4 linked regions of the Homo sapiens genome follow. The protein of the gene in region 1 purifies or fractionates together with the protein of each later gene. This does not show direct contact. Each region holds a gene or a part of one and is shown in the gene's direction. Other genes may lie near its edges. The genes, in order: NEFM, GAN, NES and VWA8.

Region 1 (8,067 bases):
AAGACAGAGCTATGACAGTGAGCCCATTTTCAAAGGATTATGAAAGAATATTGATTTTCAAATTTGCAGAGATTGAAAAAAAATCACCCAGTCCTGGGACAATGAGACTGAATTATTAGGTGGGGCTTCTTTGTGACTTTCTGTTCCCAGGTTTAGCTCTTTTCAGAAATTTGGTCCAAAGATCATTGATCTGCTCTAGTTTTACGAAGCTCATTTTAATTAAGAGTTTCTAATAAAAGAATTATGTCTCTTGCTAAGTCAGGCCTTGGTAAGCTTGGGATAAAATATGTCATAAATATTTCATAGCTGCACTGGTGCAGTTACGTGCAAGGCAGGGTTTTCAAAATTCAAGTGCATATCATCAACATCTGTTGCTGCTTTATAGGTAAAGCTAATGGGTTCAGTTAAAAACATGCTGAAAATTAATACAGGAGTACTCTTTTATTATGCATCTACTGAACTTTATTTTTAGAGTCACTTTTACCAAGGCTCTATTAAGTACTTTTTTAAAATTCTAAATCTTTCTCCCCTGGCTTTCACAGAAAGGATTCACAGTGGAGAGGTGAAAGCATTACACAGCAAAAAAATCAGCAAGCTATGTTAAAGCCAAAAGCTAAATTTTCCCCCACCACACACATGAAATTTCCAGATATAGAATTTTAAAACTGATTAATTTAACATTTGGAATATAATAAAGATTAAATGTTTTAAGTTTTGTAAATACTTCAATTAACTTCATCATAACAGTAACTGACAAATAGAAGGCAATATTCAAAGAATAAAATATTTGGCAAGGGAAACAAACACCATTTCAGTGGCCTAATGACAGAAAAGGAACACTGTGGTCTAGATGGATTTGTTTTGATCAAAGACAATAGGGACATACATATACATCCCAATTTCCCTGACAAGAAACAGTCTTTCTCCCCTGAGAATATTTTTATTTTGCTTTCAACTCTTGACAACAACAAAATCAAAAGTCAACACTGCTTTTAAAGTTTGACATCCTGAGGATCAAGTAGAAATATGTAATATAGCTTCCTTTTTCTTGTGTTCCTGCTTCGGCAGACTAAGTCCCTAGCTTCCTACATCAACAACCCCTTAAACAATTAGCAGAGGACAGGTTATAAATAATTATTATGAGTTCTAGAACCAGATCCCAGGCAAACGGATTAAGTTCAAGACACAATAGGTTGAAAGAAAGTACAGATCATCTCATCTTGGATGGATTCAGCCTACCAATTTGAAAGTGACGTTGTCCATCTGGAGTATCTTTCTTGCTATCCAGTTCCTACATCCCATCCTCCTTGCATTTTTTTATATCCAAAAATGCTATTTAAAAGAAGAAATGTAAGGAAATAGGGAAAGATGGGAGAAAATGCCTAACTCCTTATTTTTTATCTTTATTTTATGACCCAGTAAATATACCACCTTTGCAAATGATATTTTCCCAGTATTAGATGACACCCTACAAAACCTGACAGTGGCTATCATCTCTTAGCTGCAAAGTTAACATTTTCACTTTCCCTACTGAAGGAACATATAGATTGGAGCATGCCTTGTATTTCTCTATAAAGTGATTCAAAACAGACTGTAGCTTATGAAACAACAATTCAGAGATAATTTCATTTAAAATGTCTTACATCTAAATCATATGAGAAACTTTTCTATTTAGAATAAATTACAAAAGTATCGTAGTCAAACTTAATTCCATGAATGCAGTGTGGTTAATCCGGGTGAGTTGCCATGATTGTTTTCTCTCTTTTTAATATTTTGAGAAGATTTCATAGCCTTAGTGTTCTTAGGGTTTAAAAAAATGCAAAAGCATTTCTTTCTGTGAAAACTATTAAGATGGTAAATATTCTTCAAAACTATGAGACAAAAAGGGAAAAACATCTTTTATAGCTTTTTAAAAAAAGTTTTCATACTAAATTTACTGATGGGTATAACCTTCAAATCACCTTTAGGAAGAGTAGTTAAAGTGGAAGAGTTTAATATAAAAGAAAACATTTTGCTAAATGTGAAACTGGATCCATCATTTTTTAAGCCATGGGAACTGTTTTTTCTTAATAAAACAACTGTTTTAATTCTTTGCATTATCCTGTAGTGCCCAGATTGAACAATATATCATGTGACATTGAAGTTACAATTTTAAGTTATAGGCACTAGATGTAGCCTGAGTAACTGACTTATTTTGTTTGTACGCAACACTTTCCTCCTTCTGTAACCAGCTGGAAGCTGAACAATTTCTCAGCTACTTCAGATACAAGGCAAAACTGGGTAATTGTGAAGTTAGACATGTGTTTCCTTGTAAATGTCTCTCTGCAGAGTCATCTCGTTTCCAAAGCCCTAAAGAAAATTAACAGCAGAAGGCTGCCGGTTAACCATGTACTCTCATTGCAGAGTTTGCAGTGAATGTGCACCATGAAATTGCCAAGGATTTTTATATATTTCAATAAAAGCAGAAAGTAATAAGCAACAAAGGCAAAATTACTGCATAATTAGCATTTGGCCTTATCTAGATGGTATCCTGCTGAGTCCAGCCTGACATCCGCAATACTTTACAGAAGGCAGGGAATTTTCTTTCTCCTTGCCTTTATTTATCTACATAAAACCAGAAAATCCTGTTTTTACAGTATTCACAAGTCAGTCCCCTCATTCCATCATCTGTCTCTCTCAACAACTCAAGACATGGATGGGCTCTGCTTGCCTAAGGTCTCTCAGCAAACTAGAACATCCTTCTCCTACATGGCCTGCGATACTGCAGTTTCATATTAATAAACCAAAGTAACTCCCAAAATTAGCACCTCCTGTTTAAAACATTATTTCTATTTTAATACAGATGGGCCAAGGGAGCTGATAAAAATAAAAAATAAAACCTCTAGAAACCCACCCCTTTCCTGATTACTTACTGATGAATATGATCCTGTCTTTTAATAAAACAGGGACTTAAGGAAACATGCTGTGAAAAGAAGCTATTTCGGTCTGGAGTCCCTACTTTTTATAAGCAGTAGTTTCTTCTCACCCATAGCAAGCGTTGCACATTCAGTCACTTGTACCTGTGGCCCCAGCGCTGTTGTTAGTTCTGCAATCTCTTCTTCACTTTATCTTGTAGTATTCTGAACTTTTTTAACCTGAATTACCCCCAAAGCACTACCCAAAATAAAGGGACATTTTAACAGGAGTACACCAGACAGCAAGAAGTCTGTGTAGAGTTCTTGTTTGCATAAACATGTTTAATGATATAGAAAATCTATTCCAAATCAATCATTAAAATCTAAAGCGAAAAATATATTACATTTTAAATGAAGGGAAAACATCTGATTTTATTCAAGGTTGTGGTGACTCTGTTCCGCAACTTTTAAATCAATTTAAAGTTAATTCAGATGCCTTTTCAATCATTGCAGTTACACATAGGGAATACTGAACCGAAAGATGACAAGGCAATTGTCTGTGTCCAAACTTAAGAAAAACTATATTTCCCTGGACTTTTCATCCCAACAGATTTCAAATTCTCCTTTCCAAGGAGTATTTGACCTTCACATTTCAGGCCCTGTATCTCTTCATTTCCTATACCACCATATGTTAGAAAACTCAAACTGGGCTACAAGTATATATTTCTGTTAACTGACTTTAATGAATTTTGGTTGTTTTCAAAATCTGCGATCTGTCCATTGTGCCAACCCTGCATTGCAGGGAAGTCTTAGCCTGTGATTCCAGCTTCGCTCCTGCAAAGATAGTCACTACAGGCAGGTTTAAATTGTATTTACTCGGAGAGAAGAGGGGGAAGGGAACCCCCTGCCCCCTGCCAACCTGACAGGCCAGGCTGGGTGACAAGCCCCCCGGGTGGCTGCACCTCCCACTCGCCGACCTGGGCGCTGTCCTTGGTGCTGCCGGCGCCATAGCGAGCACAAGCGCCTTACCTTCTGCCCCTGCGGAAGCTGCGGACGTCCCCCAAACGTTAAAAACGCCATATCCCACTTTTTATACAAATAACTACCCCGGCCTGTTCTCTTTGTCCCCTTCCCGAAGCCTTCAGGCAGACCGTTCCGCAAAGTCTTTTTTTTTGTTTTGTTTTGTCTTCTAGACCCAGCTCCTCGGCGCTCATCTCCAGCTGCTTTAAGACAAGGGGTGGGGGAAGGGGAGGGAGGCAAGAAAAGATGAGGGTGGGGGAGGGGAAAAGAGGGAATGCAAGGGGAAGGAGGGAGGAGACGGGGAGAAGGAAAGATTGGAAGAAAAGGATCTCCGAGGAAGGGGCTGAGAGAAGGGCAGGGTGAACTGGACTAAAGGCCAGAGTAGGAAGGAGAAGAGGGGCCAAAAAAGAAGGGGATGAAATTAAGCACAGAAGATGGGTAAAGAAAAAAGTATCAGGGAAAGGGCAAAATAAGAGAAAGCCTTGAGGATAAGAGGGTAGAAGGCTAAAGAACAAGGGGACCACGGGGTCGGGGAAGCGCTGCCTGAACGGCGGGACAGTGACAAAGAAAGGGCGCTGGCGATATTCGCACCAAGGGTGCGAAACGCAATCGGGAGGTGAGAAATGGAAAGAAGGCGAATGCCCGGCTACAAGTAGCCTGGGACTGAAAGGGGACCTGGGGGAGGGGCTGGGCCCAGGGCAGAAAAGTCCAGGTTCCCATGCGGCCTGGGCCCACGTGGAGCGGGCGCTGAATCACCGTTCAGCCGCCCCCCTCCCCTCCTCCCCGACCGGTGCCCGCAGTCCCCGCCTCCTCGGCCGCCGCCTCCACGGGGCGGGGCCCTGGCCCGGGACCAGCGCCGCGGCTATAAATGGGCTGCGGCGAGGCCGGCAGAACGCTGTGACAGCCACACGCCCCAAGGCCTCCAAGATGAGCTACACGTTGGACTCGCTGGGCAACCCGTCCGCCTACCGGCGGGTAACCGAGACCCGCTCGAGCTTCAGCCGCGTCAGCGGCTCCCCGTCCAGTGGCTTCCGCTCGCAGTCGTGGTCCCGCGGCTCGCCCAGCACCGTGTCCTCCTCCTATAAGCGCAGCATGCTCGCCCCGCGCCTCGCTTACAGCTCGGCCATGCTCAGCTCCGCCGAGAGCAGCCTTGACTTCAGCCAGTCCTCGTCCCTGCTCAACGGCGGCTCCGGACCCGGCGGCGACTACAAGCTGTCCCGCTCCAACGAGAAGGAGCAGCTGCAGGGGCTGAACGACCGCTTTGCCGGCTACATAGAGAAGGTGCACTACCTGGAGCAGCAGAATAAGGAGATTGAGGCGGAGATCCAGGCGCTGCGGCAGAAGCAGGCCTCGCACGCCCAGCTGGGCGACGCGTACGACCAGGAGATCCGCGAGCTGCGCGCCACCCTGGAGATGGTGAACCACGAGAAGGCTCAGGTGCAGCTGGACTCGGACCACCTGGAGGAAGACATCCACCGGCTCAAGGAGCGCTTTGAGGAGGAGGCGCGGTTGCGCGACGACACTGAGGCGGCCATCCGCGCGCTGCGCAAAGACATCGAGGAGGCGTCGCTGGTCAAGGTGGAGCTGGACAAGAAGGTGCAGTCGCTGCAGGATGAGGTGGCCTTCCTGCGGAGCAACCACGAGGAGGAGGTGGCCGACCTTCTGGCCCAGATCCAGGCATCGCACATCACGGTGGAGCGCAAAGACTACCTGAAGACAGACATCTCGACGGCGCTGAAGGAAATCCGCTCCCAGCTCGAAAGCCACTCAGACCAGAATATGCACCAGGCCGAAGAGTGGTTCAAATGCCGCTACGCCAAGCTCACCGAGGCGGCCGAGCAGAACAAGGAGGCCATCCGCTCCGCCAAGGAAGAGATCGCCGAGTACCGGCGCCAGCTGCAGTCCAAGAGCATCGAGCTAGAGTCGGTGCGCGGCACCAAGGAGTCCCTGGAGCGGCAGCTCAGCGACATCGAGGAGCGCCACAACCACGACCTCAGCAGCTACCAGGTAGGAACCGCGGCTGCGCGGCCAGCCTGCGCCAGCGCCAGCGCCGCGCGCCCCCGACACTTGGGCTCGTGCCCAGGCGCCCTCTCCGCCGCGCTCCCTGGTGGCCGCTCGCTAGAGCACGCGCGCCGCAGACCTAGGGTATTTGCGGATCAGCGTCCTCGCCCATCTCATCCTCCACACTCCGCCCCCACCCACCTGCCCCAGCTGCTAAGGGTCTTGACCTTTTTCAGAAACGTGCATCTTTTCCAGTTCTAATTTTGCACGCTTGCACGTTTAAAGCAGGAGGGATGAATTCGGTAGTGGATAAATCAGCAACTTTAGGATAGCTTATGCAGAAACGCGTGTATTCTCTACTTTTCCGGCAGTGATCGGAAGAGCTCTCAAAATTGGCTTCAGCCCAAAGGGCTCAGATGGGAATGGCCAGGTCAGCCATGGAGTTTCCCCATGCATGTTTGTGTCCTGTTGAGACGTGTTCTAAGTCCACTGGTCTCCGTGCGTGATGTGCCCAGGAAGTGTCCTATTGTCTTACTGATCTTGTATGTTCATTTGAGAATCGCTTAGATTTAAAAGAAAAAGGGGGTGGGACGGGGGGCTGGGAGTCAGGTGTCAGCGAGGTTTGCAGAAGTGGAGGGAGACGGGAGGAGGCCAGGGGGAAGGGGTAGCAAGTGGTTTGCGAAGGAAGTTGCTGTTTGCAAGGATGAGTCTGGGGAGATTCTCTGTGTCTGTTTCAGGACACCATCCAGCAGCTGGAAAATGAGCTTCGGGGCACAAAGTGGGAAATGGCTCGTCATTTGCGCGAATACCAGGACCTCCTCAACGTCAAGATGGCTCTGGATATAGAAATCGCTGCGTACAGGTACGATGCTTACTACGTGCGTGGCCGGAACACTAACCGCAGTGCAGAGGCTGTTCCGGCAGAGCTTCCACCACTTAAGTTAAAGCAGGCAGGGTGCAGGCATCAACTCAGCACCTGGTTATCTTGCTTACTTAAAAAGAAATTATTCTAAAGAATTGCAAGTGTAGTTTTATCTCTTTTTATGCAGCTTTAAAAGAATGAATACTAGTAGAAACAAAAGGTTTTTGAATTACACAAAGGAGGTGCAGATTAATCTCAATGCACATGCTTAAACTTTTTATGGAAAAATGTTTTCAAATGCTGGAAGCATGAACAGAGTTTTGGTTTCTAATATTTCATCTAGTGGTTTCAGCTTTTCAAATGTATAATGTCAAGGACAAACACCAGGACGTTCTATTTCTCTGTTTCTCTGTTATATAGCTTACTATTGCCATCATCTGGCTGAGAATAGATATAGAATGATAGAATATAGATATAGTTCTTTTATATATGTAGATAATTTATATGTATTATATTTTATGCTAGACTGTAGTATAAATTATATCAATATATCATGTATGATATTAATCTAGATCTATAGATACACATATGTGCATATGCATATAAATCTAGATATATAGACACAAATATATATGATCGTTTTATAGATAGTGAGATAGGTTATAGGTCTATTAACTGAAGTGACCTTGCTGTTGACTAAGCGCAAAGGACAAAATCGTTGATTAAAATTTTTCTGCTACCAATAAGGTAGTTATAATATAACGAGAATAAATTGCATTTACAGAGCTATCTCTCTTTTCAGGAAAGCTGAATAACTACATTAAATAGACACTTTATGATAAAAATTATCAACAAATTTATAACTCGATACACCTGAAAATCTAAACGTTTAAGAAAGTGACTACTCTCAGAAAGGCTGTTTGGCTTTGGAGTTTGGGGGCGTTTTGTTTATGGCTTTTTGTTTTTTTGTTTTTGTTTTTGTTTTTTGCTATTTGGCCACTAACAAGTTTTTCAGCATATTCATGTTGTACCTAATGGATCTCTACTGCAGGGCCAAGACTTAGTAGCTGGGTGTGGTTAGTGGACTATTGGGCAAGGTTAGTCATTGTAGGGGGCAACTGTCTGGCAGTCCAGGAGAATCTTTCTCTGTCACTGAGTATAATGTAATATGCCAGTAAGTGATAGCAGGTATTATAGTGAATTCATAGAATATTCTACTTATGTAATTCTATTTATTCAAAGGTAGCTACCACAATACCCAGAATGTAATGAAGCTCAGAAGGCCTAGTG
Region 2 (7,666 bases), on another chromosome or scaffold:
AATGGAAAAGCTTACAGGGCTGGAAAGCAGAAGATCTAGACCTTAGTCTGTTCTGCCCTGACTGGGTCACACCTATAACCTTGACTGAGTCATTTGCTCATCTGTACTTTGGTTTTCTCTTCAATAAGATAAATCCGTTGGACTTGATATTTGCTAAAGAATTTTCAAACTGTTAATATTTTCTTTGCATTATTTCTCTTACTGGACTCTCTAAGTAGTTTTTAGGAAATAAAAGCCCAACCCCCCAAGTGGATTCCTCTCTTGAGGGCACATTTTTCAAAGCAAAAGAAAGCTTTTTTTTCCCTTTTTGCAAAAAGACATTGCTTTCTTGTTTTTTTAATGATTGTAAAAAATTATGCATGATCAGTACAGAAAATAGAAATCGAGGAAAATACAGAGTAAAAGCTTCTATAATAACACTGAGACAACTATACTTTCACCATCACTGTATCTGTAGCAGGTATCGTACAGCAGGTGCTTTAAAAACAGTTGTTGAATGAATGATTACTGTTAATATCTTGCAAACATCCTTTTTGGTCTTCAGACCAAAAACGAATACATAAATAAATCCTTTCTCTGGGTTGTTTCACCTCTAAACCAGAAGAGCTCAGTAAAGCCACCAGAGACTAAAGCTGTTAGGACAATATCAAATCTCTTACATTGTAATATGTTTCACAATGACAGTTGATATCTGATGCCTATGGAATATAAGGAAACAATAACATTTAATCCATCATTCTGATAGGCACAATATCAAGGGTGGCTCAGTTTGAGCAATATCAAGAAGGCTGCAAAACAGTCCACAGTACTTCAGCTCAAGCAAGAGTGGCTCCGGCAGCACTGGGAGAGTTGGCTCTGCCTCCTGAATCCTTCTTCCCACACTTGGGCCCTCTTCCTTGCCCACAGCACCAGGAGGAGCTTTCTGGGGCATGTGAATTCCACTCAACACATTTTATTGGCAACCTAGCAGCCATTTGATTGTCGACTACATTTTCAGTAAACTAATCGTTTCCTGATTACCTCTGAACATGAATTACAGCCAGATCTTGTCTGTAGACCCATGCTACATTTTTTCCTCCAAATGGAATTAGTTGCTAATGTTGAAAATCCGGAATATTCAACATGTAAAGTCTGAATTGTCAGAATCTCTTAAAAAGTTGTTAGATCCACCACCACTGGGCCCCTATCGCACAGAGCAATCAATCAGAGCTGAGGAGCATGTGCTCTTCAGCTCCCATAAGCCCACCTACTCCTATTGTCTGACATCCCACATCCCACAGTTTGCTTTGCTAATTTACCTGATACGCTCCTGCTAATTATGTAAAACATTCATGGGGTACCTACTACACATCAGGCACTGTGTAAGTCCTGGGAACATAGGCAGATAAGGCAAAGCCCCTGCCTTGGAGGAGCTCACAACCCAGCAGTGGAAATGACTTACAAACCAGTAAATTACAGTACAGTATGGTGAGTACAGCACAGCAGCAGGAGCATGCAGAGGACTGACCCACTCTGTCCTGGGAAGCCAGCTCAAGATTTCCTGAAGGCCATGGTTAAGCTGGGTTTTGAAGGATGAATAAGAGTTCACCAGGCCAATGGAGTGGTGGGGAATACTAGCAACAGTGTGGGTGGTATTAAAAATATATATAAAGTCTTCTTCTGCTTAGCTGCCTGTTGCACAGATGATCCTCTCAAGCCAGCAACTACCTTTCTCTTGATGGTCATTCCATTTCCTCCTTCTATCAAAACAACAGGGAAGGTTCACCTTTATCTGGAAGAGCCTGCCTGACAAATCCCCATTCACCTCCAGTTACTTCAACTAAGGCAACCTTCCTACTCGGATAATTGGTTACCTGACTGTGATCCTACTATTGGAGCTCTTTGTTTTGGAACCTCTGATATTTAAAGAATAGACTAGCACAATAAGCAATTAATAAGTACTTATCAAATATTTACATTGTGTAGAGAACTCTCCCTGGTTTTTGACTTTAAAAATGGCAAACACAAATTAACTAAGAACAGATAGAGAATACAGTTCAGAAAACATTTATTTATTTTATTTTTTATTTTTTTTGAGACAGAGTCTTGCTCTGTCACCCAGGCTGGAGTGCAATGGCGTGATCTCGGCTCACTGCAACCTCTGCCTCCCGGGCTCAAGTGATTCTCCTGCCTCAGCCTCCTGAGCAGTGGGGATTACAGGTGCCTGCCACCACACCTAGCTAATTTTTGTATTTTTAGTAGAGACGGCGTTTTACCATGTTGGCCAGGCTGGTCTCGAACTTCTGACCTCGTGATCCGCCCATCTCGGCCTCCCAAGAAACATTTATTAAGTGTCTGATATTCAGGTGTTTTTCTTTTTTTTAATCCCTCCATCCATCCAACATTCAGTTAGCACTATTACGCACCAAGTACTGTGCTTGGTACCTGGAAATCATGCTGAGCTACAATAAACATAGTATAGCAGGTGACATGGATAAATAAACCCATTATAAAAAGTTTCTTGCTCGAGCAATGTTCAAAATACAGCAACTGCTTGGAGAAAGGAATGTCAGCTGCTCACAGGGATACTGGGTAGGTATCATGGAGAAGATAAGTCCAAGCTGCTTGTCTTGTGTGTTTCTTACCTTTTTAAATATATTTTTCGGCCGGGTGTGGTGGCTTATGCCTGTAATTCCAGTACTTTGGGAAGCCAAGGTGGGCGGATCACAAGGTCAGGAGTTCGATACCAGCCTGGCCAACATGGTAAAACCCCATCTCTACTAAAGATGCAAAAGTTAGCCAGGCATGGTGGCACATGCCTGTAGTCCCAGCTACTTGGGAGGCTGAGGCAGGAGAACCACTTGAACCCGGGAGGCGGAGGTTGCAGTGAACAGAGATTGCACAACTGCACTCCAGCCTGGGCAATAGAGGGAGACTCCATCTCAAAAAAAAAAAAGAAAGAAGAAAATATTTTTCAACATCCACAAAAATATAGAAACAGTACAATGAATCTCCACATCCCCATTAAACATCCACAACAATATAGAGACAGTACAACGAATCTCCACATCCCCATTACGTGGCTTTAACAATTAGTAACTTGCGGCCACTTTTGACTCATCTACACTCCCATCTGCTTCCCCATCCCTTTGTTTTGTTTTGAAGCAAATCCTAGACATCTTTATCATTGCATCCGGGAACACTGAGCTGCATTTACAGAAGAAAGTGGAAATGCATGTGTCTTCCACAGCCGTACCCTCCCCATCTATTCTGCCCTGAAAACAGTTAGATACTCGGATTCCTGCCAGTGACTCCAAAGCCTTGGCTGGTTCAGGGTAAATACCCAAGACTTTATTGGAGCCTTTCAGTTGGTTGAAGGACAGTGAAAATTCCATCCTGTCTTGCCTGGAATGCTAGCCACATTCTTCTGGTCCGGAGTCCTCATACAATTGCTAATTTTTTAGAGGCTTATGGAGTCCCTAACGTTTGCACAAAATGGTTGCTACATTCCACACTCCCATGTGCCCTGAGCAACCTCCAGGGAAACTTCAGATACCGTGGGGCTTGGCCTGCCAGCTGAGCTGACCCAGCGATCCTTTCTATCACAGCTTTGATCTTCACTGGGTTGGGAGCCTGTCTGAATCTAAACATCTGCCTCTCTACTGCCCACCCCTTCAGCATTTCCTAGCTCTCCCTGAAAGGTGCAAACATGCATGCAGTTACTCAAACAGAATATTTATCCTTAACTCCCTCTCCCTCACAATTTCTTTTAAAACAATCCACTATTGTCTACCCCCGCCCCCGCATCACCCTTTCATCCAGGTGCCCATTCCCTTCTCTCTAGTCCTGCAATACCTAAGCATCGATCTGCCTTTAGCACATCCATCCCCGCCTTATTCTCCACGCAGGAGCTGAGTGACCTGCACAAAATCCCCTGCTAAATACGGTACTTCCATGGTTCTTCACCACTGCAGAAACCAAACTCCTTCCCACACCAAGGAGGCCCTGCAAAATTTAAGGCCTCCTTCGGACTTCTCCAGCTTCATCTGCTACATCTCCTTCCTAGCCCGCAACCAAAACCATCTTTTCCGGGTCTGTTTTCTCGGGTTTTTGTCCTCTCACCTGGGCAGCTCCTTTTCTCTCATAAATAAAGAAAGCTACAGCGACTTCGCCCTTGCTTCCATGCATCATCTCATGAGTCCACAACAACACTAAGAATTCGCTTTCATTTTGCAGACGGAGAAACTGAGGATGGGCACCTTACCCATGGCCACAGAGCTAGTAAGTGGAACAGCTGCAACCAGGATTCAAACTCGCGGCTCCAGAGGCCACAGGCTTAACCACGGAATCCTAGCCCGCCCGCACATCCCTCCATCGCGGGAGCGACCTATCTCATCCGTAGACACCTTCCGCTGCACCCAGCCGCAGCTGGTCAGGCGGGCGGAGGAAGGAGGCTTCTGATTGGCCATCTCCAGCAGCGGAGGCGAGAAGGCGGGGAGCGACGGTGCGGGGGCGTCGCGGAGAAATGACTTCATGACGCGGCTTCTTAAAGGCGCCGGCCCAGCGCGCCGCGGATAGCACAGGCACGTCCCGGGGGCTCCAGCTTCTGCTCAGAGCGCGGAGAGCCGGGCCGGGCGGGCGCGCGCGCAGGACTCGGGCCGCTCGAGGGGTCCGGCCGGACGGTGTCGGGAGCCGGACCCGTCGGCAGAGGAGCGGGCGCCGCGATGGCTGAGGGCAGTGCCGTGTCTGACCCTCAGCACGCCGCGCGTCTGCTGCGAGCGCTCAGCTCTTTCCGCGAGGAGTCTCGCTTCTGCGACGCGCACCTGGTCCTCGACGGGGAGGAGATCCCGGTGCAGAAGAACATCCTGGCGGCGGCCAGCCCGTACATCAGGTGGGGAGGGGGCTACGGCGGGCGGGCGCGGCGGTGCTGCCCGGAGCCGGAGGCGGGGCGGCCGGGCCGGGCGTGGCCCCCAGACCCTGTCCCCTGTCCCCGGCGCCGGGGTCCCCGCGTCACCGTTGGCGCGGCGTCCCTCCCGGCAAGCGCCGGAACCCGGCCCCGCTGACCGCGTCCCCCAGGCGGCCTCTGTGGCTTCCAGGCCCGCGCTCCCCACTGGACCCCCGCGCCCCTTGGAGTTGTCCCCGGACCCGGGCCGCGATCCCCCGCCTTGTCCCTCCCGGTTCCCACCGCCGCGGCGAGCGCCCGACCTCGGAGACCCTGAGGCCCCCAGACGCCGTCCTGGGCCGGCCGGGACCCGCACCTGCGGGCTGGGCGAGGCCGCGCCGGGGAAGAGTCACCCCCTCGCCCAGGCCGGGCCCGCGGTCCCCGCTGAAGTTCGCCAGTCGCTCGCCTCTGAATCCACGCGCGGGGGCTGGGCCGGCGCCGCCAACCAGGCGGGGAGCGCCCTGCCCGCTGGGAGGCCAGACAGACAGCGCCTCGCTGGGTGCAGGCAGAGAAAACCCTCTCGATGTTCTCCTTGGGTTGGTAGTCCGAACCTCCGGGCGAAATTCTCCTTGCCAAACGTGTCTTTTCCGCTCCATTCTGGTAACTGTTTAAAAGAGGAGTTACACGTTGAAGTAAACTGTAGCGAATTCTCAGGATGCTGTTACAACCCGAGGACCGTGAGAGCCTTGCGACAAAGGGCATTTTAATACTTTAGTAAAGCAAAGCTTAACCTGATTTGCCAACTCAACTAACCAGGTTAATTAAAAGGTTGATAAGACAGTGCTTATACAAGTGTATCAGATCTTGCAGGAGACTATCTTTTCTTTTAGCAACCTTCTTGCAAACTAGGTTGCTGTTTTAATAAAAGGAAAGGGGGGAATGCTAAAAACTGGAGAAACTGACCAGTAAGCTGGTTAAATATAAGCTAGTGGTAGAGAATATCACTACAATTGACAGGTCAGAAAAAGCAAAATGATGTGTATTCTTAGCGCTTTGTCCCAGCAAAACCACCACGCACGCTACACTTTTAACCTTTGCATTGGGGAGATATCTGTGCTAAACTTAGAAGAAATTCAAGTGCCCTTGTAACTTCTGGTTTCTCTTGGATTTGTTTTGTGAATCCATTTGCGCTCTTTGGCGGTGGGGAGTGTGGAGGGGTGGGGGGGCGGGGCGGCAGTAGGGTCTGGGGTAGCATCGTTAGTACAGAATTTGGATTGCTAATGTGACAGACAGCTTCTAGCTGGCAGTTCCGAGGTTTGAGCAACCCATCCCAAATTGGAGTCAGCAGACCAAAGTCTTCCCTGTTTGGGAAAATGCTGAAGAAAACTACTTTAGATGCATTATTGTTATAGTTCTTTAAATGGCATCCGTTTGGCTTAAAAGAAGTAAATTGCAAATTGCCGAATCCTTGCTTGTTATCCTTGTTCGTTTTTCTCCATAGCACTTACCACTTTGACGTACCCCATATTTTACACATTTACTTTGGTGGTCTTTCCCAACCACAGTGTGACCTCAATGAGGTCGTGGTGTTTTGTTTTGTTTTTCGAGACTGAGTTTCACTCTTTAGCCCAGGCTAGAGTGCAGTGGCGTGATCTCGGCCCACTGCAACCTCCGCCTTCCAGTTTCAAGCGATTCTCCTGCCTCAGCCTCCCGAGTAGCTGGGATTACAAACGCCCGCCACCACGCCCGGATAATTTTTGTATTTTTAGTAGAGTCGGGGTTTTACCATGTTGGCCAGGCTGGTCTCGAACTCCTCACCTCGTGATCCGCCCACCTCGGCCTCCCAAAGTGCTGGGATTACAGGCGTGAGCCGTGGCACCCGGCGGTGTTTTCTTTTATTCACTGCTTTACTCTTTGCACCCAGAAAGAACTGTGCCTATCAGTTAATGTATTGAATGAATGACTGCCTTTCTTTCTACCACAGCAAATGTGTACATTAGAAAATTGGCACCATCACATTTTCATAGTACACAGACGCTCAGTTATACCTAATTGAGAAACGCACTGGATTCAGAGTTTGAAGACCCGCTTTGTGCTTCCAGCTTTTACTCATATTAGCTGTGAGTTGCTGGTAGATGACAAGGCTTCAGCTCACTAATCTGATGAATGAGGGATAAAAATGAGTCTTCTCATTTAATCACACCTGTGAAGAAATACGTAATAGTGTTGACACCTCATAGGTCTGTTCCCATGTCTTCAAAGGTAGTACCCATTGAATTAGGAAATATCTGTAGTCCGGTTCTTTCACTTTCTAAATAAGAAAATAGGGGCTCAGTGGACATTAGTGACTTGTGTTATGAGGTTATTAGTACTTAATGGTTGAACTAGGATTAGACTCCAAATTAATTACGGCTAACCGCCTTCCTACTCTTGCCCTACCACGTTAGAGCATTACTTGTATTTCACCGTTCTCTTTGTGTAAACTTTACTGTTAGCTGGCTTACAATATCTTAGAATTAAAATGTTTATCAAGCACTTTTACATACTGTGTCATTTTGGTTTCCATTTTCAATCATCTTTAAAGAGAAGGCAGATTTTTTTTTTTTATGTTTTGTGGATAAACATGAATCAGTCAATATGTGTTTCATCAGTGACAGATGAATTGCTTTAAGTTTATTTGGCTATTGAAGTGATAGAATGTCTTGGGATGTTTTTAAAAATTATCAATTCCGAAGCTGTTTCAAAGTAATTTGACGAATCTGTATCACTAACTAGAAAGAAATTTGTTAATTTTGTATTTTTACT
Region 3 (6,145 bases), on another chromosome or scaffold:
CACCGCCAGGGAAGAGAAGCCCAGAAGGAAGGCCGCAGCACTGGCAAGGACAGAGGTGAGGCTACAGCGAGTGCTAACCAGACTCAGAGATCATGGAGCAAAGCAGAGAGGAGCAGCTGCTCATCCTAAGTTATTGAATTGATTGGTCCCTGCTCCCCTCTTTGGTTCAAGGGGCGCTGAGGAAGGGGCCTGGACACAAAGACCTCTGTGCCCCGAAGAGCTTGGGATCCAGAGTGCTTAGAGATCCTGAGATGAGGGCCCTGACCCCCAGTGAAGCCACCAAGGGGAAGGGTCTGGTGGGCCCCGAGGAATTTAACTGCTATTTTTTGAGGCATGAAAAGGATTTGGAGAGGGGGAGCTGAATTCATTTGCTTTTGTCTGTCGCTAGCTCTGGGGGCCACCGGGGAAGGAGGAGGGAGCCCATCCCATGGGAACGGCCTGAGAATTCCCACTTCCCCAGAATCCTCTCCTTCTCAGACCCTCCAGATGGTGGCTTGGACAATGGCAGCAATTAGCATGAGAATCGGTCCCCCACACAGAGGATGAGGTCATTGGCCTGGGGTGGGAGGAGGAGGCTAGCCTAAGCCTTGTGTGGGTGTGTGTAGGGCAATGTCCGACTGTGTGGGAATCTGCTTCTATGTCTGAGCTCTGCTGTGTATCCCAAATACAGTGTGACTTTGTGTGACCAAGTGTGTGATGTCTGTGGGTATGTGACTGTGTGATTTCACCCTGAGTGTGGCTTTTGTGTGACAGTGTCAAATGAAGAGGAAGCCTGCAGGGCCTGGATGGTGCAAGCTCAGCCTGAGTTGTCCCCAGCTGGCTTGCTGCCTGCAGGCCTGGGGGCAGAGGGCTGACCCCACTTTCCCTCTGTCCTCTCCAGGACCCTCCTGGAGGCTGAGAACTCCCGGCTGCAAACACCTGGCGGTGGCTCCAAGACTTCCCTCAGCTTTCAGGGTAAGAGGAGGGGCCAAGTTCCCCCAGAAACTACCCTGCTTTGCTCTTCATACCCAGACCTATCTTTCCCGAGAGGCACCAATCTAAATTTCAAGTCCGTGGCCTCCAGTGTCAGTGAGCATGCTCTCAGCCCAGCCATGGGCGCCAGGGGCAGGCGCATGGATACTCTTGCCAGCGGTGGCTGCTCTGTGGCTCCCCTCATTGCCAGTGATATACTGATGCTGTTTCTTCCCCCTCTGCCTTTCCAGACCCCAAGCTGGAGCTGCAATTCCCTAGGACCCCAGAGGGCCGGCGTCTTGGATCTTTGCTCCCAGTCCTGAGCCCAACTTCCCTCCCCTCACCCTTGCCTGCTACCCTTGAGACACCTGTGCCAGCCTTTCTTAAGAACCAAGAATTCCTCCAGGCCCGTACCCCTACCTTGGCCAGCACCCCCATCCCCCCCACACCTCAGGCACCCTCTCCTGCTGTAGATGCAGAGATCAGAGCCCAGGATGCTCCTCTCTCTCTGCTCCAGACACAGGGTGGGAGGAAACAGGCTCCAGAGCCCCTGCGGGCTGAAGCCAGGGTGGCCATTCCTGCCAGCGTCCTGCCTGGACCAGAGGAGCCTGGGGGCCAGCGGCAAGAGGCCAGTACAGGCCAGTCCCCAGAGGACCATGCCTCCTTGGCACCACCCCTCAGCCCTGACCACTCCAGTTTAGAGGCTAAGGATGGAGAATCCGGTGGGTCTAGAGTGTTCAGCATATGCCGAGGGGAAGGTGAAGGGCAAATCTGGGGGTTGGTAGAGAAAGAAACAGCCATAGAGGGCAAAGTGGTAAGCAGCTTGCAGCAGGAAATATGGGAAGAAGAGGATCTAAACAGGAAGGAAATCCAGGACTCCCAGGTTCCTTTGGAAAAAGAAACCCTGAAGTCTCTGGGAGAGGAGATTCAAGAGTCACTGAAGACTCTGGAAAACCAGAGCCATGAGACACTAGAAAGGGAGAATCAAGAATGTCCGAGGTCTTTAGAAGAAGACTTAGAAACACTAAAAAGTCTAGAAAAGGAAAATAAAGAGCTATTAAAGGATGTGGAGGTAGTGAGACCTCTAGAAAAAGAGGCTGTAGGCCAACTTAAGCCTACAGGAAAAGAGGACACACAGACATTGCAATCCCTGCAAAAGGAGAATCAAGAACTAATGAAATCTCTTGAAGGTAATCTAGAGACATTTTTATTTCCAGGAACGGAAAATCAAGAATTAGTAAGTTCTCTGCAAGAGAACTTAGAGTCATTGACAGCTCTGGAAAAGGAGAATCAAGAGCCACTGAGATCTCCAGAAGTAGGGGATGAGGAGGCACTGAGACCTCTGACAAAGGAGAATCAGGAACCCCTGAGGTCTCTTGAAGATGAGAACAAAGAGGCCTTTAGATCTCTAGAAAAAGAGAACCAGGAGCCACTGAAGACTCTAGAAGAAGAGGACCAGAGTATTGTGAGACCTCTAGAAACAGAGAATCACAAATCACTGAGGTCTTTAGAAGAACAGGACCAAGAGACATTGAGAACTCTTGAAAAAGAGACTCAACAGCGACGGAGGTCTCTAGGGGAACAGGATCAGATGACATTAAGACCCCCAGAAAAAGTGGATCTAGAACCACTGAAGTCTCTTGACCAGGAGATAGCTAGACCTCTTGAAAATGAGAATCAAGAGTTCTTAAAGTCACTCAAAGAAGAGAGCGTAGAGGCAGTAAAATCTTTAGAAACAGAGATCCTAGAATCACTGAAGTCTGCGGGACAAGAGAACCTGGAAACACTGAAATCTCCAGAAACTCAAGCACCACTGTGGACTCCAGAAGAAATAAATCAGGGGGCAATGAATCCTCTAGAAAAGGAAATTCAAGAACCACTGGAGTCTGTGGAAGTGAACCAAGAGACATTCAGACTCCTGGAAGAGGAGAATCAGGAATCATTGAGATCTCTGGGAGCATGGAACCTGGAGAATTTGAGATCTCCAGAGGAGGTAGACAAGGAAAGTCAAAGGAATCTGGAAGAGGAAGAGAACCTGGGAAAGGGAGAGTACCAAGAGTCACTGAGGTCTCTGGAGGAGGAGGGACAGGAGCTGCCGCAGTCTGCAGATGTGCAGAGGTGGGAAGATACGGTGGAGAAGGACCAAGAACTGGCTCAGGAAAGCCCTCCTGGGATGGCTGGAGTGGAAAATGAGGATGAGGCAGAGCTGAATCTGAGGGAGCAGGATGGCTTCACTGGGAAGGAGGAGGTGGTAGAGCAGGGAGAGCTGAATGCCACAGAGGAGGTCTGGATCCCAGGCGAGGGGCACCCAGAGAGCCCTGAGCCCAAAGAGCAGAGAGGCCTGGTTGAGGGAGCCAGTGTGAAGGGAGGGGCTGAGGGCCTCCAGGACCCTGAAGGGCAATCACAACAGGTGGGGGCCCCAGGCCTCCAGGCTCCCCAGGGGCTGCCAGAGGCGATAGAGCCCCTGGTGGAAGATGATGTGGCCCCAGGGGGTGACCAAGCCTCCCCAGAGGTCATGTTGGGGTCAGAGCCTGCCATGGGTGAGTCTGCTGCGGGAGCTGAGCCAGGCCCGGGGCAGGGGGTGGGAGGGCTGGGGGACCCAGGCCATCTGACCAGGGAAGAGGTGATGGAACCACCCCTGGAAGAGGAGAGTTTGGAGGCAAAGAGGGTTCAGGGCTTGGAAGGGCCTAGAAAGGACCTAGAGGAGGCAGGTGGTCTGGGGACAGAGTTCTCCGAGCTGCCTGGGAAGAGCAGAGACCCTTGGGAGCCTCCCAGGGAGGGTAGGGAGGAGTCAGAGGCTGAGGCCCCCAGGGGAGCAGAGGAGGCGTTCCCTGCTGAGACCCTGGGCCACACTGGAAGTGATGCCCCTTCACCTTGGCCTCTGGGGTCAGAGGAAGCTGAGGAGGATGTACCACCAGTGCTGGTCTCCCCCAGCCCAACGTACACCCCGATCCTGGAAGATGCCCCTGGGCCTCAGCCTCAGGCTGAAGGGAGTCAGGAGGCTAGCTGGGGGGTGCAGGGGAGGGCTGAAGCCCTGGGGAAAGTAGAGAGCGAGCAGGAGGAGTTGGGTTCTGGGGAGATCCCCGAGGGCCCCCAGGAGGAAGGGGAGGAGAGCAGAGAAGAGAGCGAGGAGGATGAGCTCGGGGAGACCCTTCCAGACTCCACTCCCCTGGGCTTCTACCTCAGGTCCCCCACCTCCCCCAGGTGGGACCCCACTGGAGAGCAGAGGCCACCCCCTCAAGGGGAGACTGGAAAGGAGGGCTGGGATCCTGCTGTCCTGGCTTCCGAGGGCCTTGAGGCCCCACCCTCAGAAAAGGAGGAGGGGGAGGAGGGAGAAGAGGAGTGTGGCCGTGACTCTGACCTGTCAGAAGAATTTGAGGACCTGGGGACTGAGGCACCTTTTCTTCCTGGGGTCCCTGGGGAGGTGGCAGAACCTCTGGGCCAGGTGCCCCAGCTGCTACTGGATCCTGCAGCCTGGGATCGAGATGGGGAGTCCGATGGGTTTGCAGATGAGGAAGAAAGTGGGGAGGAGGGAGAGGAGGATCAGGAGGAGGGGAGGGAGCCAGGGGCTGGGCGGTGGGGGCCAGGGTCTTCTGTTGGCAGCCTCCAGGCCCTGAGTAGCTCCCAGAGAGGGGAATTCCTGGAGTCTGATTCTGTGAGTGTCAGTGTCCCCTGGGATGACAGCTTGAGGGGTGCAGTGGCTGGTGCCCCCAAGACTGCCCTGGAAACGGAGTCCCAGGACAGTGCTGAGCCTTCTGGCTCAGAGGAAGAGTCTGACCCTGTTTCCTTGGAGAGGGAGGACAAAGTCCCTGGCCCTCTAGAGATCCCCAGTGGGATGGAGGATGCAGGCCCAGGGGCAGACATCATTGGTGTTAATGGCCAGGGTCCCAACTTGGAGGGGAAGTCACAGCATGTGAATGGGGGAGTGATGAACGGGCTGGAGCAGTCTGAGGAAGTGGGGCAAGGAATGCCGCTAGTCTCTGAGGGAGACCGAGGGAGCCCCTTTCAGGAGGAGGAGGGGAGTGCTCTGAAGACCTCTTGGGCAGGGGCTCCTGTTCACCTGGGCCAGGGTCAGTTCCTGAAGTTCACTCAGAGGGAAGGAGATAGAGAGTCCTGGTCCTCAGGGGAGGACTAGGAAAAGACCATCTGCCCGGCACTGGGGACTTAGGGGTGCGGGGAGGGGAAGGACGCCTCCAAGCCCGCTCCCTGCTCAGGAGCAGCACTCTTAACTTACGATCTCTTGACATATGGTTTCTGGCTGAGAGGCCTGGCCCGCTAAGGTGAAAAGGGGTGTGGCAAAGGAGCCTACTCCAAGAATGGAGGCTGTAGGAATATAACCTCCCACCCTGCAAAGGGAATCTCTTGCCTGCTCCATCTCATAGGCTAAGTCAGCTGAATCCCGATAGTACTAGGTCCCCTTCCCTCCGCATCCCGTCAGCTGGAAAAGGCCTGTGGCCCAGAGGCTTCTCCAAAGGGAGGGTGACATGCTGGCTTTTGTGCCCAAGCTCACCAGCCCTGCGCCACCTCACTGCAGTAGTGCACCATCTCACTGCAGTAGCACGCCCTCCTGGGCCGTCTGGCCTGTGGCTAATGGAGGTGACGGCACTCCCATGTGCTGACTCCCCCCATCCCTGCCACGCTGTGGCCCTGCCTGGCTAGTCCCTGCCTGAATAAAGTAATGCCTCCGCTTCAAAGTCTGGACTCTTCTTTCCCCCACTCAGAGGGGACCCTCAGGGTTAGTACAGGAGAGAGATGGCGGGGGCGGGCGGGGGGTGGCGGGGGAGAGGAGGAAGCTGGTGCTGGGGAGGGGCTGCCTCCTGAGGAGAGGAGGACCTGGGGGGATGAGGGCAGACAGACCCAAGCTGCAGGGAGCAGTGCTGGGGCCTGGGGAGGGCCAGGGGCTGTTGCTTGGCTGGGGGAGGCCAGTCCAGGTGACCTCAGCGCCTGCAGAAGCCAGGCCCATCATCATCTCTGCCCACAGTACTGATTACAGGGATTAGGCCTTGGGGCCACCCCCACCCTTGTATACCCCCCCCCATTAGTGCCTTGGTGCCGCCAGCATAATAAGCCCCCTTGTCTCTAAACCCAAACAAGTTGTCTGGCCTGATCTCCTCAGCCTGACTGGGTGGGAGCAGGGTGAGGGAAGAGGCAGGCCTGTTCTTCCTCAGTCTGGCTGCATGGCCTCAGGTCAGCA
Region 4 (7,338 bases), on another chromosome or scaffold:
GACGTTTCTCTCAGAGTGTACAAATGTGCATTCACACAAATTTAGTCAATACTGTAGATCCTGCTGCTGAAGAATGTGAAGAGCCATTGATAAGAGTTAGGCAGAGAAGGAAGGAAATGAGATTTAACAGGTGCCTCCTTTGGGCCACTTGTTTGCACATACATTTACACATTTAGTTTTCCTAGCAGTCACAATAATGTAGGTGATATTTTTCCTACTAAGAAGGCTAAGGTTCCAAAGGTATAATACCATGCATACGCTAACATTTAGTAAAAGTGTACATCAAGCAGTTGAGCCAGGATTTGTGACTCTAAAACCCATACTGTTTCCATTCTCTAAGCTCCACTGTATGCTAGTTGCAGGACGATGGGCAAGTTATATAACTCCTTTGAACTTTGATTCATTCATTCATATAAAAAGGAGATAGTCTATATTGGATTCTGGTGAAAGTTAAATGAGAAAAATCCATGGAATGTGCTTACCACATAGTAAGTTTCCAAAACATGTTAGTTATTGCTAGTAATATGCTTTGCTAGGAATAACCATAAACATAATTATCTATTTAAGGTCCACTGGTAATCAATCACAGCTTTGCTGGTGATCTGCCCGTCGGGGACTACCTTTGTTACAACCTCTAGTCATGTATTTTCCTTACCCCCTGACTGTTTTCCTCTGTGTTACTGACTAAGGCTTGGAGATCTGACCCAAGTCTCCTTTATTCCTTGGTGTGTTAACTGCTTTTCCTTTCAAACACCCCAGTCTTCATGTTGTGAGCCTGCCCTGGCATCCTGAACCTGATTTCACTTTGCTGCCTTCCTTGACAGTATGGATTTGAGAGTGTTCTCCAATACAGTTTTCTCAACAGTCAAGTCCTAAGTCCCTGGACTTGGCAGCTCTTACAGTTGTGATTTGTATCATTTATGCTATAGCTTCCGGATCTCTTACTTTTATAGGATCATACCAAAAAAGAGTTGGATTCTTGGAAAATTGTCCGAGTTAGTGAAAATTTCCGAGTGATTGCCTTGGGCTTGCCAGTGCCAAGGTATTCTGGGAATCCATTAGACCCCCCTCTTCGTTCTCGATTTCAAGCCAGGGATATTTATTATTTACCCTTCAAGGTAAGTAAGACCAAGGATAATTTATTTGTTAAACAGTTTTTCTATTTATAACAAGAACTTCAATGCTATAAAAATGTTACTGCAGTTTTGAATGTCTTCCTGAGTAGGTCATGGAAAGATATGAGAATAAAGAGTAAAGAAAAGCTCTGGAAACTAGGAAGAAAAATTATTATGGCATTATTTGAAGGATTTTTTTTAAAAGGCTGGCTTTTCTTTTAGAAAATGAAATGTATCAATAAATGATTTTTTGCTGTTAAATATTTAGTGTCTGCTTAATTAAAAGGTTGGATTGTATCTACAAAACATTTGCATTTAATCTGTTACATTTCTTGTTAATTAATTTAATATGTTTCTGTATTACTTTAGGACCAACTTAAGTTGTTATATTCAATTGGAGCCAATGTTTCTGCTGAGAAGTAAGTATATTTTTATAAATGTCTGGACACTGAATATTGAATTTGTTTTGCCTGTTCATTGATTGATTGATTAATTAATTCAGTCATTCAACAACTAGAATTCTTATAAGAATTTTTCAGTATTAGGATGTTTGGTGATAAAATTAATAAGATATCTTTGGCAGGAAACTCAAGATCTAATAGAGTTGAAAGATATGTGAATAGCTTTGGTTAACATGGTATAGTAAGTGCCATAATTTGAAAATATTTGGGGGCATTAGTTGAGACTTTATAAGGGCTTCATAAAAGCATTGGTGTTTGAAATGGGTCCTAAATAATGAGCAAGTTTTTGCCAGATAGAGAGTGGAATCAAGAAATTCGAACACAACAAGTGTTTTTTTTTTGTTTTGTTTGTTTGTTTGTTTTAAAAGCATGGAATGTGAGAGTTTATGCCTTGTTTTTAGGGCCATAAAAAACTCTTGGAGGCTAGAGTTTAGGTTTGGGATTACGAAATGTGAGAGATGAGGCTGGCAGGGTAGATTTGGACCAGGTGGTGAAAAACCTCAAATATTGTGATGAATTTAGGAATATATTTGCATCTAATCAGCTTCTGAGTTTTAAGTAGGATATTATGATGCGGAACCATTGTTCCTTAAGAATTAATATTAGGGATCTTTTTTAGATTAATTAAATTGGCCCCTGTATTTTATATTTAACAACTTACACATTTTATATTTTAAAACTATTAAAATTTAATATCATTTTTCCCTTAGAGTTTCTCAGCTCTTGTCCTTTGCCACAACTCTGTGTTCCCAAGAATCTTCTACTCTTGGACTTCCAGACTTTCCTTTAGATAGTTTAGCAGCTGCGGTTCAAATCTTGGTAAGTAAAATAAATTAATGACTGGCATACCCAAATATGTTAAAAATTTTGAAAGTTAATCATTAGGGATTAATGACTTCAGTTTGCTTTTGTCATACTCTTCTATAAATATTGTAAGGCCTGAGATTAATTTGTTGTGCAGTGCAGTAAACTGTACAGAGACCAAGGACATGTTCTGAGCCCCTAAAGAGCTTTCAGCTTTGGAGTAGGAGCTAGACATGCAATCTCAGTAAAGTTCTACAGAGGGAAGGAAGGCTTTAGCCTGATCAAGTAAGAGGTGTGCTGCAGTGTGAGTTAGGCCTCAGAGCTGTCCTTACCTGAGTTAGGGGAGCTAGGGCTTTCACACTGTTCTAGCTTCCATCAGTCTCTGTGTCATGGTTGTCTCAGGGGACACAAATTCCCAGACACTAACTGCTCTCCCAGCATGTGTGCAAGGGTGGCTTCAAGAGCCCAAGGATCGTCTTCTTAGAAAGACCTACAGCAATTGCTGTTGGAAGAGAAAGCTAGGAGGCACAAGAGAGAATGCAAACAGATCTGAGGGGATCTGATAGAGTACAGACATTGTCCACTACAGTTTCACAAAGGGCATGGCGGTCATGTCTGGAGTGATAAAAGGCCCAGGAAGTCAAAGCACAGGCAAATGTGTTTAATCACAAAAGGGCCTAGTATCTTTGGAGAATGAGAATAAGTTGTATCCCTAAAGCAAGTGTGTGTGGTAGAGGGAGAAGTCAGACCGCTATTGTGAAATGTTTTGCATGATGAATGAAGTTTCCTGGATTTTATGATATGGAAAAAGTGGCTTATCAGACAATATTAAGTTGGTGGGCTATGAATGTGACCAGACTTATGTTGGAGGAAGACACCTTTGTTGGAAGTGAGGGAATGACTAGGAAGCTTTTGTAACACTCAGTGAGACCCTGTGGAGGAGGGCACCATCCAAGATAGTGGGAATACTATCTTAGGCAAGAGACTTATTTTTAAACTTGTATGTATGTATGTATGTATGTATGTATGTATGTATGTATGTATATATGTATGTTTCATGTGAGTCAGGGAGCCTAGGTATTGTTGACATTGTTCTATACATCCAGAACAGAATTTCTCCTCCTGTTTATCAAATCTTATACTTTTATCAAATCTTTTTGTTTTTGCTTAGAACATTTTATTTTGAAAATTCTTATGAAATCTTTTGTTTTTGCTTAGAACATTTTACTTTGAAAATTCTCAAATGTAAAAAAAAGTTGAAAAACAGTAAAACATTCATAATCCCCTCACCTACAATCACCCATTATTAATATATTGCCACATTTGTTTGCATGTGCTTTTTTCTTTTTTTTTTTCCTGAACCATTTGGAAGTAAATTGCAGTCAGTACTCTTAAATACTTCAGTGTGTGTATCAGTTCGTTCTCCCGCTGCTATGAAGAAATACCTGAGACTGGGTAATTTATAAAGAAAAGAGGTTTAATTGACTCACAGTTCTGCAAGGCTATGGAGGCCTCAGGAAACTTACAATCGTGGTGGAAGAGGAAGCAAACACGTCCTTCACATGGTGGCAGGAGAGAAAAGTGCAGAGTGAAGGAGGGGAAAAGCCCTTTATAAAGCCATCAGATCTCATGAGAACTCACTATCATGAGAACAGCATGGAGGTTAACTGCCTCCATGATTCAGTTGTCTCCCACTGGGTCCCTCCCATGACACGTGGGGATTGTGGGAGCTACAATTCAAGATGAGATTTGGGTGGGGACACAGCCAAACCATATCAGTATGCAACTTCTAAGAATTAGGACATTCTTCTACATAACCAGAACAACATTATCACACTTCATATCATGTTAACAGTAATCCATAGTATCATCTAATAGATAGTTCATATTGAAATTTCACTAATCTTTCTTGTCAACAGACTTTTAAAGTGGGGTGAACAGAATTGACAGTGCAGATAATGTGAGGAAGGATTTGAGGATAATGAATACTTTCTAATTTTGTAGTTATAACTGTGAAGCTAAGTGAATGTGGATGAGATTAACTTAGGAATAAAAAGGGATCAGGTACTTTGGGATGAATAAGGTAGAGACATGTATTCTGTTTCAAATGGGGGTCTATGGGATATTCATATAGTCACATGTAATGAACAATTGAGGGTTCAGGTTTAGAGCTCAAGAAAGAAGTCAAGACCAGACATAGAAGTGTGGGAGCCATCAATACATAGAAGATAAATGAAAGATGGGAATGGGTAAGCTTACCCAGAGAAAGGGCAAGGAATGAGAAGAGAAAATAATGAATATTTGCTTTTGTAGACTTACAGAAAATACCAGACACCTATTGGTTACTTTTATAAGTCAATTTTAATGTCATATGTACATTTCAGATGTTTTCTGTGATTATTTTGAATTTTGCTCATTCCTATGTATTTTTGCTCCTACATAGGATTCCTTTCCTATGATGCCAATCAAACATGCAATCCAGTGGCTTTATCCATATAGTATTTTACTAGGTCATGAAGGGAAGATGGCTGTGGAAGGTGTTTTAAAGGTGAGTGTCTGCTTCCCTTTCTTTCCTTTCTTTTCCCATTTTCCCTTCCCTTGCCTTTTCCCATCTTCCCCTCACTCCTTTCCCCACCTTTCCTATTTTTCTCTCCCCATCCTTATTTCTTTCCTTTCCCTTCCCCTCCATTCTTTACCAGGCATGGAGGTATCAGCATTCCAACAAGAAGACAGCTGTGATAAATAGGGCAGCAAACACACAGGGGCTGGTGTGATTGGGAGATTGGTTATGTTGAGCAAATAAGTAAATAGATTGAGCAAATGAATGAATATATTAAGGATAATAAGAGTTATGCTTCTCACTGTTGGATGAGGGATTTATAACCATGGAAAGGGGGAAGGCAAGAAAAAACTCTAAGGTATTGGATTGGAATTGGTGTTATTATGAATCATGACTTTTTTTAAACAATATATATGAACAAATAGATAGAGATAGTATGTGTATATGTATACATACACATATTTTCTAGCTGTCTCCTAAGGCAGCCTAAAAACTATGATGTTCTCATATTTAGTTAAAAAAATAGGATTGCTCTCCCTCTCCCTCTCCCTCTCCCCACGGTCTCCCTCTCCCTCTCTTTCCACGGTCTCCCTCTGATGCCCAGCCGAAGCTGGACTGTACTGCTGCCATCTCGGCTCACTGCAACCTCCCTGCCTGATTCTCCTGCCTCAGCCTGCCGAGTGCCTGCGATTGCAGGCGCGCGACGCCACGCCTGACTGGTTTTCGTATTTTTTTGGTGGAGACGGGGTTTCGCTGTGTTGGCCGGGCTGGTCTCCAGCTCCTAACCGCGAGTGATCCGCCAGCCTTGGCCTCCCGGGGTGCTGGGATTGCAGACGGAGTCTGGTTCACTCAGTGCTCAATGGTGCCCAGGCTGGAGTGCAGTGGTGTGATCTCGGCTCGCTACAACCTCCACCTCCCAGCTGCCTGCCTTGGCCTCCCAAAGTGCCGAGATTGCAGCCTCTGCCTGGCCGCCACCCCGTCTGGGAAGTGAGGAGCGTCTCTGCCTGGCCGCCCGTCGTCTGGGACGTGAGGAGCCCCTCTGCCTGGCTGCCCAGTCTGGAAAGTGAGGAGCGTCTCTGCCCGGCCGCCATCCCATCTAGGAAGTGACGAGCGCCTCTTCCCGGTCGCCATCCCATCTAGGAAGTGAGGAGCGTCTCTGCCCGGCCGCCCATCGTCTGAGATGTGGGGAGAGCCTCTGCCCTGCCGCCCCGTCTGGGATGTGAGGAGCACCTCCACCCGGCCGCGACCCCGTCTGGGAGGTGAGGAGCGTCTCTGCCCGGCCGCCCCGTCTGAGAAGTGAGGAGACCCTCCGCCTGGCAACCGCCCGTCTGAGAAGTGAGGAGCCCCTCCGCCCGGAAGCCGCCCCATCTGAGAAGTGAGGAGCCCCTCCGTCCCGGCAGTCACCCTGTCTGGGAAGTGAGGAGCGTCTCCGCCCAGCAGCCACCCCGTCCGGGAGGGAGGTGGGGGTCAGCCCCCGCCAGGCCAGCCGCCCCGTCCGGGAGGGAGGTGGGGGGGTCAGCCCCCCGCCCGGCCAGCCGCCCCGTCCGGGAGGTGAGGGGCACCTCTGCCCGGCCGCCCCTACTGGGAAGTGAGGAGCTCCTCTGCCCAGCCAGTCGCCCCGTCCAGGAGGGAGGTGGGGGGGTCAGCCCCCAGCCCGGCCAGCCGCCCCGTCCGGGAGGTGAGGGGCGCCTCTGCCCGGCCGCCCCTACTGGGAAGTGAGGAGCCCTCTGCCCAGCCGCCCCTACTGGGAAGTGAGGAGCCCCTCTGCCTGGCCACCACCCCGTCTGGGAGGTGTACCCAACAGCTCATTGAGAACGGGCCATGATGACAATGGCGGTTTTGTGGAACAGAAGGGGGGAAAGGTGGGGAAAAGATTGAGAAATCGGATGGTTGCCGTGTCTGTGTAGAAAGAGGTAGACATGGGAGACTTTTCATTTTGTTCTGTACTAAGAAAAATTCTTATCCTGTTGATCTGTGACCTTACCCCCCCCCCCCCCCCCCCGGCAAAAAAAAACTATGATGTTCTAGTAGCAGTGATCATACCAAGTACCTGGACATTGGTTTCTAAATACCATGCTCTCTAAAAGGATTAGGTCAGGGAATGCAGAAGATGAGCCTGGACCATCTTTTTGTGCCAGAGAGTAAGGAAATATTCAACAAATGATGTCGATATGTCAAAATGATGGAGTTCCCAGGTTGAAGTGGCTGAAATCTGGGACAATTTGAGCATAAAAATAAATGATGATGGTAATTGGTTTTAACCTGTTACATAAAATAGGAATCCATGAGTCCATACTGATAGAAATGAACAAAAAATATGGAGATGGGAGTTCTCTTTTAAAGTGTAAAATGCCTACTTGTGAATCTAGAAGGAATTACATAAATAGAAAAAACACCA

The links.
Region 2: the proteins of NEFM (region 1) and GAN purify together in Homo sapiens (affinity purification with mass spectrometry; 3 studies listed by BioGRID and IntAct, with this or other methods). This does not show direct contact.
Region 3: the proteins of NEFM (region 1) and NES purify together in Homo sapiens (co-immunoprecipitation; 3 studies listed by BioGRID and IntAct, with this or other methods). This does not show direct contact.
Region 4: the proteins of NEFM (region 1) and VWA8 purify together in Homo sapiens (co-immunoprecipitation; 2 studies listed by BioGRID and IntAct, with this or other methods). This does not show direct contact.

Annotation. Positions count from the first base shown.
Region 1 is NC_000008.11:24,908,953-24,917,019, forward strand, and holds the start of NEFM (neurofilament medium polypeptide), read left to right. Parts: upstream 1-4,808; 5' UTR 4,809-4,841; coding exon 4,842-5,921; intron 5,922-6,034; exon of another isoform or gene 6,035-6,345; intron 6,346-6,652; coding exon 6,653-6,777; intron 6,778-8,067. UniProt on the Homo sapiens protein: Neurofilaments usually contain three intermediate filament proteins: NEFL, NEFM, and NEFH which are involved in the maintenance of neuronal caliber.
Region 2 is NC_000016.10:81,310,411-81,318,076, forward strand, and holds the start of GAN (gigaxonin), read left to right. Parts: upstream 1-4,551; 5' UTR 4,552-4,703; coding exon 4,704-4,870; intron 4,871-7,666. UniProt on the Homo sapiens protein: Probable cytoskeletal component that directly or indirectly plays an important role in neurofilament architecture.
Region 3 is NC_000001.11:156,668,263-156,674,407, reverse strand, and holds the end of NES (nestin), read left to right. Parts: intron 1-880; coding exon 881-954; intron 955-1,202; coding exon 1,203-5,086; 3' UTR 5,087-5,645; downstream 5,646-6,145. UniProt on the Homo sapiens protein: Required for brain and eye development.
Region 4 is NC_000013.11:41,880,977-41,888,314, reverse strand, and holds part of VWA8 (von Willebrand factor A domain-containing protein 8 isoform a precursor), read left to right. Parts: intron 1-953; coding exon 954-1,118; intron 1,119-1,484; coding exon 1,485-1,534; intron 1,535-2,286; coding exon 2,287-2,395; intron 2,396-4,823; coding exon 4,824-4,928; intron 4,929-7,338. UniProt on the Homo sapiens protein: Exhibits ATPase activity in vitro.